2 linked regions of the Homo sapiens genome follow. The protein of the gene in region 2 purifies or fractionates together with the protein of the main gene of each other region. This does not show direct contact. Each region holds a gene or a part of one and is shown on either strand. Other genes may lie near its edges.

Region 1 (3,500 bases), on a different chromosome or scaffold from region 2:
GCAAATCTTGAAGAAGTTACTTGACTCATTGTTCTGAATGTCTTAATCAGTCACTTTAATTTTTTGAAAGAATTTCCTTGAAAGTGTTCTTAAATAAAAATAGGGATCTTCCTGTTAGTGAGTGTAAAATTACTCAGCAGTGATTCTTTGGTTTTGTGAAACTTAAGGGAAGACTAACTCTTCTTTCTCTATCCCTTCCTTCCATTCCCTCTGCAGTCCATCATCTTGGTTCAGGCCTTTGTGACAGTTCTTGCCTAGCCTCCCAAAAGATAGCTTTCCCCACTTCTCCTGCTTGTCAGTGTTTTCAACCACCTGCAGATGACTTCTTCAGGTCAGCAGTAGTTGTCACTTACCTCTTGGACCAACCTTTTGGGATTCCTTATTGCCTGATGAATTTAATGGATTTCTTACCATAGTATTCCAGGTCCTGATAATCTGCTCCCAACCTATAGCTTTCTAGTCTTCCTCTCCCTCATTTTATGCTCTGGGACAGTGAGCAAGTTAGTGTATACTGAGAAGAGAAATGATTCGGAATTTTTAGGTATAGAAGGACTTACAAAAAGTTTATTCTTGATGGAGAGTAGAAATTAGTGACCATTGTGGATTTGAGAGTGTTCATTGTTTTTGAATCACCGTTACCAGAAAGACAAAGAGTGGCGAGTAACTCAGTAGTCAAAGGGGAGGGAGTAACAGACTTGTGCATGTTGGAGATTGAGGTAATGTGAACATTCAGACATAGATGTTTGAGGAGAGTAGGGAGAAAGGAGTAGATGGAAAGTGTAGCTGGAATGCAAACTAGATATAATCTGGGTTTTATTACTCTCTTCATACTTACGAATAAGAAAGACTATTAAAAAAGAATGCCTAGGCCAAAAAGATTGTCACTAATACAAACAATAAGCTAAATGACTCTTACTGCAAGAAAAAAAGAAAAAGAAATTATAAGCTGAAAAGAAATTGGAATGAGGAAAACTATTGAAAATTTTCCATAAAATGACAGATAAGATTAGGAAAGTATGAGAAGGATCGTATACCCCCATCCCACAAAAAAGGAAGTTGCTGTCTTGGAACCAACTATAATTATGAGACCATTGATATACAGGGATGTTCTTGGTTTTCAGGATTTATGGTGGAAATAAATTAAGGACTCTCCTTATAAAATCTAGAGATAAGATGCAATATTTTGATAAAACAATATACCATGATACTGTTTTGGATTTTATCTTTTAAGACTGCTTGCAATGGAGCTATAATGACATCTTTTTGGTATATACAATAAGAAACTCTTGGACAGGATGAAACACATGTCAACCTTATATTGTATATATGCTGGAAGGGATTATTATAAGGTTCAAGTAGTTTCCATAGTAAAATTTTTCTTACTAATTCTACACGACTCCTTATTTTTCTCTTAGTAAACTTGAGGAATAATTGAATAGTGGGGGAACAGTTTCTGGAAGCGTTTATTCAATGAGATTCAAGACACGTATTCTGTAAGAAGCATCATAAAAACAAAATGCACAGTATATAGGTGGAGAATGAAACCATACTAAAAATTTAGTCAGGGCAACCTGACCAGACAATCTGCAAATAATACGTTCTGTACCCTGCAATTTTCAATGTTGAGTTTTCTCTTTTTTCTTTACTCACAAGAATCTCTGCAGCTGCTGTTTGGGGTCCTGGGAACACTAAATGCAAATGATCATTGAGACCCAGGAATGATAGTTTTAGTTCCCCAATTATGGTGTAGGCATTGCAAAGACCCTCTTCCATAAATGACACCCTTGTATTTTTTTGATTTAAGAGACCTGTCTCTGTTATCATTGGATTTAAGGTAAAACCTCTTCAGAGATCTGTGTTTAAAGCTATTTCATATGTAATATATATATTTTTTCTTTTGTCTTTTTAGCCGTGTGGTTTTGCCATGTTCTGTTCAGGAGGTGAGTTTTTCTTGCTTCTGCATCATTTTATTGGTATATGTACTGTACTTTGATATGTTACTCTAAACTCACATTTTCGTAGTATTGATTTACCTTTTCATTCCACCTTATGTGACAAAATTAATTATATGAATGATAATTGCAAAGAATTGCAAAATGAATTAAATGAATGATAATGAATTTCTTGCTACACTGCCTTGTTTTGGAAGAGTCTAAAGAATGTAGTTTAACCTCCTGTCTAGTGCAGGAATTCTTTCTCCAACATCCCAGAGAAATGAGGCTCCAGCCTCAACTTAAGTACTTTAAGGTTAAGTAGCTTGCTGCTTAGAGAAGCAGCCTACTTTACTGTTGGACATTTTAAACATTTGTGTTTGAACCAAAATCTGCTTTTCCTATAATGCTTGACTCTTGTTTACAGTTTATCCCATTTGAGCAATGGGAAATAAGCCTGTTCTGTCTTGTAGTGGTTAATCCTTCAGGTTTTCTGATGGCAGCTCTCCCCTCCAGCCAACCCCATCCCCCACAAGCACTTTTATTTCATCTTAGAAAGTCTCAAGGTTAAACATTCCCAGCACATTCACTTGGCTTAATACAGCATGATATGTGGACTTGCTACCAGCTGGTCCTGTTACTATATGTGTTGTAATTGTTGATCTGAACTGAAAACAGTATTCCAGACATGGTATGAACAGCACACAACTGTAAGAGCTTATTGTTTTCCTCAGTCTGGACATGATACAGAAATATATCACCTATTCAGAACTTGCATGTCCTGCAGTTATAGCCATGTGTATTGTAGACAAGAATGAAGATAAGAGCAGAAACAGCTTCTGAGAAATCAAGATATATATAGCAAAACCCATAAAACCCTCTAGGCTCTTCTGTAACTTGCACACAGTTCCCATTTGCTCAGTTATCTGGTTTTCCTAGAGCTGACAGTAGATTAGAAGCAGTGACTTGGAAGTGGGACAAAACAAACTGATAACCTAAGAAGTGACAGCTGACAGAAGACAGAAAGAAATGCAGGAAGTGAAAAAGAGTAGCTGTCTGGCACTGTTTAGTGTAGACTTGAACACAGTTGTTTATATCTCAGGAGGATTCACTGTATTAAAACACTCCAGAGAAGCTAGGCACCCTGTTCTCTATTTGCACAATTGATTGTTTGAAGTTGAATGTGGAAATTGACACTTGTTTCTGTTAGACTTTTTCTTTTGATTTCAGCTGGTTGAATCAGCTTGTCGAAATCTTTTTGAGTCTTGGTATTGTCACTGAAAATACTGTTCTCGGCTTTTTGTTATACTCCCCCCCCCACCTTTTTTTTTTTTTTTTTTTTGGAGATGGAGTCTTGCTCTATCGCCCAGGCTGGAGTACAGTATTGCGATCTCAGCTCTCTGCAACCTCCGCCTCCTGGGTTCAAGCAATTCTCCGTGCCTCAGCCTCCCTAGTAGCTGGGATTACAGGCACCCGCCACCGCACCTGGCTAATTTTTGTATATTTATTAGAGACCGGGTTTCACCATATTGGTCAGGCTGGTCTCGAACTCCTGACCTCAAGTGATCC
Region 2 (4,442 bases):
GGGCTGAATGAAGCCTGCTTCTCATCAGACCAAAGCCCGAGCCAGCCCCTGGTTAGCCGACCCTGCTTCCAAGTAGTAAAAAAAGGAACCCACAGAGACACCATGCACATCCCTCAGCTATCTCTGCAAGGGGCTGTGACCCTCTGCAGAGACGCCGACTATCAGTGCACTGGTGTGGTGCAGGCCAGCAGGTTGCCAGTGAAGCCTGCCAGGCTCAGCACAGGCAGCAGAGCCCTGGATCTCAGGGCCAGCCTGTGTGGCCACTACCATGCTTCTCTCCGTGGCTCTCTTTGGAACTTAAGAGACAAGGCCAGGAAATTGGGGTAGTTCAGTAGGATACTTTTCTTTCCAGTTGTTGATGACAAAAGGGAGATGATGCCTTCTGACCAACTTTCTTAATTAGGCACTCACCAGGCTATGTCACTAAGCAGAATGGGACATAAAACTTGCCCTACCGTACGGGTATTTGGTGTCCAGCTTATTCTCTGCTGTCCTTCTCCAAGGCAACACGTCATCACTGCACCCATTTGGCATCCCATTGTACCCAATCCCGACAATCTTGTTTTCTGAATTCACGATGCAGGCGCCGACCTAGAAGGAAACATGCCCAAAGGCTTGGTGCCTGCAACTGGCTGGTCTGCCGCTGTGGAAGCAGGGAATAAAACCAGGGGGACTGCAGAACTCAAAACAGACGCATAGCTGCTGCAGGTGCTGAGAGCTGTCGGTCTCCTTGCCTGGTTTTTTGTGGCAGCACCCACAAGCCAAGGAAAGTGCACCCCCAGTCCCAGAAGGGGCACAAGAGGCAGTTAACAATGGCATGTGACAATTTTCTGTCTCACAGGAAGAACTAAGCTTGTAGAAACGCAGCACAAAAGGCAGACCGACCCTGCACTTTTAAGTTGACAGGCGTCCACTGAGTCTCCCCTTTCTGCTCATGTGCAGTAATCTCTTTGCCTGTGAGTATCTAAGCATTCTCCCGTGAAATTCATTTACCTGGGAATTTGGATCTTTGCTTCTCTGTGCTGATAAGAAGGCCACAGCCATAAAATACTCTGGCCATTCCAAATAGTCGTCCCGTTTCTTGCAGGAAACTTCACTCATGTTGGGTCTAGAAGAAAAACATGACAAAACAGAAGTTGAGAGAAGCATTTTAGTAAGTCTGTTTTCCAGTTCAACCCAACCACACTGAACCTTTAAATCTCTAAACATGGGCAACTTCAGCTACATTTATCAATCAGAAATCACAGCACATGGGCCCTAAACAGTCTCTGGTCTTAAGTAAAAACTTAAGAAATTTCCTATTTCAGAAGTTTGAATTTGAAACCTATAGCTTCACGTTCCCAAATATTTCATCTATTTACTGCTTTCTCATAGGATTTTTTATGCCAGCCTACAAATTGTTGTGTCCTTTACCTGTCTCCCTTACAAAGCGGAGTCAGCACAGGAGGAGGGTGGAAAAAAGAAATATTTATTGATCATCTATAGATTCCAGACATTGTTAAAGTTTATACACATCATGTCACTCAAGCCTTACTCCTAGCTAAGGTAGACAGTGCCATCCCATCTTACACAGACTCAGAGAACTTAGGTAACTTAACCTAAACCACACAGGATTATCATCCATGCCAGACGGATTCAAAGAAAACATCTGAAGCCTTCCCAACTCTGATATTAACCAGATAATTTTTCCCTTCCCTTTCTCCTCAATAATCCAGATGGGACAGAAGTTATCAACTCCGAGTAATGAATTACATGAGAAGAAACTATGAAAAACGTCAAGTGCTACTCCTAAAGCAAGGTTTTTGGAACGTAGTTTACCAGGGGCAAGCAGAGACTGTCTACGGCAGGGAGAGCCCACGAAGGGGGTCCTAGGACTTCAGGGGAGTGGTCGCTTTCAAAAGGAATGAAACAAGGGCAAGGAAGGAAGACAACACAAAAACGGGGTGGGTACCACGGAGAAATCTTGAGAAAGGCGAGGAATGTGGTCTAAAGGAAGGCAAGCATCTCCCAAAACTTCTGCTTCAGGCTCCACACTTTATTTAGGCATCTGCTACAGTGCAGGGCGGCAGTGCCTAAGACAAGGATGCAGTGGAGAGTGGGTGCTGGGAACCACGGTCACCCACTGATTACGCTGCCCCACATCTGAGAGGCCTGGCAACCCCCCTAACAGGAAAAGACAGGTGCTGAATCAGCCTGGTTTCCCACCTGGCTTTAGGGCCAGCATCCATCATCGCTGTGGGGTGCTGGAGAAGTACCTACTAAATAGGAGGGAGGGGGAGCCATGGGGGGCGAGGGAAGAGCAGGAGAGGGAAGGGTCCTGTTAATCCCCTGGGCGCCTTCTCCTGGTGTGGCTGAACGCCCACTAGAGCCCTGTGAGGACTGAGGCCCAGCTGTAGAAACAGAGAGAACTGGAGCTCGAATACAACGATTCAGGAAGACACATCCGGTCACCGTCCCAGGCACACCCCACGCCGCTCGCAACCCCGTCAGCTCTGATCCAGGGCCTACACCCGGCATTCCCAACCCACACACGGGCGCAGGAAGGGATGTGGTGTTCAGACGCCCAGCACCACCTCCCGGGGCACTCCAAGGGGCCCGGCCTCGCACAGGCCGCGGCGCCCGCCGAGAAATCGACCCTGGAGTGACTGCGGGGACCCCGAGCGCCCCCACCCCGCCCGCATTCTCCGATCTAAAGGCTGAGCGCGGCCGAGGCGCCCCCAGCGTCCGCGGCCCCAGGCCCCCGCCCGGCAGCCAGCGCCCCGCGCCACGCGCTCGGGACGGTGCCACGCGGCGGTGGCTAGGGGCGCGCGGGCCGCGTACCCGCACGGCTGGCCCCCGCCCACCATCCGGTGCCGGCTCCGCGCGCAGGCCGGTGCTCGTCCCCGCCGCCGCCGTGCTCAGGGAAGGAAGTCGGGGGAGGAGGCGGGGCCGCCGCGGGGCCGGAAGGGGGCAGCGGCCCGGGCGCCGCGCGTTCGCAGGACGGCGGCTGGCCCCGGGGGCCCGAAGCCCTGAGGGGAGGGAGGGAGGGACGGCGGGGGCGGGTCGCACGCCGCAAAGGCGCTGCTCCGCGTCGCCGTACGCCTCCCGGTCCCCGTGACGCAGCCCGCGGTCCGGCCGGCGGTGTTCAGAGCCCGAGCACAAACTACTTCCCGGGTGCCAGACCGCCCCGAGGTCGCCCCGCTGCCCGGGTCACGCGTGGCGCTGGGTGGCCGCGAGTTGGGCGCTCCCGGGCCTGACTGCACGACCGTCGGGGGCTGCTTGGTTTGGTGGTGGTGGCGGTGGTGAGGTTTTCCCCACCATCCGTGTTCCATCAACTGCTTAGAGACACGGCTATGGAGATTGTGATTAAAAGACGACCCCAAGAATCTAGTGCCGTGAAACTGGCGGGGCGGGAGGTGGGGAGACCTGGTTTGGGTCTCTGGAGTGAGCCCGCTGTGTCGCAGCGTCCCCGTGGGGACCCTTGGCCGGTGGCTGGGTCACAGTTTCACACACTGGATGGGGCAGGGAACTGGGTCCGGCGGGGGCGCTGTGCCTCGAGGCTCAGTGCCTCGAAGCTAGATTTGCATTTGGCTGCGCCTGACAGGCTTTCAGTTTCTGCTCAAATTGTGCGGAAGGGCCTGAGGTGTTTGCTAAAGCCTGCCGCGCCCTGCTCGACCCGTATCACCGCACAGGCACCCCACCTGCATGTTACCTCCTGGTAATGCTCGCCCACTTATATAGTGCACATTTTGTTGCAGTTGTTTCAAAGATGAGAAAAACAGGGCAATAGGAAAGACCATCAGTGACATTTCTGGAGTCGTATGCCCCAAGCAACTTAATCTGGTTTTCATGAACTTCGTTACCCTGTGCAGACGTCTAGCCCCTTACAGTGGTTCTAGCACAGAGAATGACAGAAGAACCCCTTTCTGTTTCATTCATGGGACTTGAGGGGACTGTCAGCACTCCATAAATAACAGCTACTGTAATAATCGCCAGTTCTGATCTGCACATCCCAGATTTGAACTGCTATTCCAAACAAAAGCTTGTTAACTATATTAATTTAGCCTAACGGAGGAAGAATGATGAGAGTAAACAGTTGGTTCTATCTAATTTCTCACTACAGCAGACACATCATTCTTCATCTCATGGTCCAGCTTGTAGATTCAATAATTAAATTATGTACTGCTCTTGGTGGATGCCGGGAAAGCAAAAGGGAGAAATACTTCATCGTTAACTATAGATTTTTTTTTTTTTTTTTTTGCCTTGATAAGACTCAGGCTTGAAAGAGCCACATAGATTAAGATGATGATTTTTAATTTCAAGTTGACTTTACATGGCTGTCTTGTTGCCGCTAAAATGTGTCATATATCCCGAGCCCCTGGTTTCCCTCCTCCTCCCAAATCCACCGCTTGGTCTTTGTCACACTCATCTACAGTCTTTGGGTCTTCATAGATCCATTTCTC

What was found. The genes of interacting proteins can lie anywhere in the genome.
Region 1: the proteins of DCTD (region 2) and PITPNB fractionate together in Homo sapiens (co-fractionation; one large-scale study listed by BioGRID). This does not show direct contact.

What each region holds. Positions count from the first base shown.
Region 1 is NC_000022.11:27,912,757-27,916,256, reverse strand, and holds part of PITPNB (phosphatidylinositol transfer protein beta isoform), read left to right. Parts: intron 1-1,909; coding exon 1,910-1,940; intron 1,941-3,500. UniProt on the Homo sapiens protein: Catalyzes the transfer of phosphatidylinositol and phosphatidylcholine between membranes. Also catalyzes the transfer of sphingomyelin.
Region 2 is NC_000004.12:182,914,468-182,918,909, forward strand, and holds the start of DCTD (deoxycytidylate deaminase), read right to left. Parts: upstream 2,920-4,442; 5' UTR 2,847-2,919; coding exon of another isoform or gene 2,821-2,846; exon of another isoform or gene 2,232-2,820; coding exon of another isoform or gene 2,206-2,231; intron 2,073-2,205; exon of another isoform or gene 1,819-2,072; intron 1,422-1,818; exon of another isoform or gene 1,414-1,421; intron 1,109-1,413; coding exon of another isoform or gene 1,102-1,108; coding exon 994-1,101; intron 592-993; coding exon 456-591; intron 1-455. UniProt on the Homo sapiens protein: Catalyzes the deamination of dCMP to dUMP, providing the nucleoside monophosphate substrate for the thymidylate synthase/TYMS.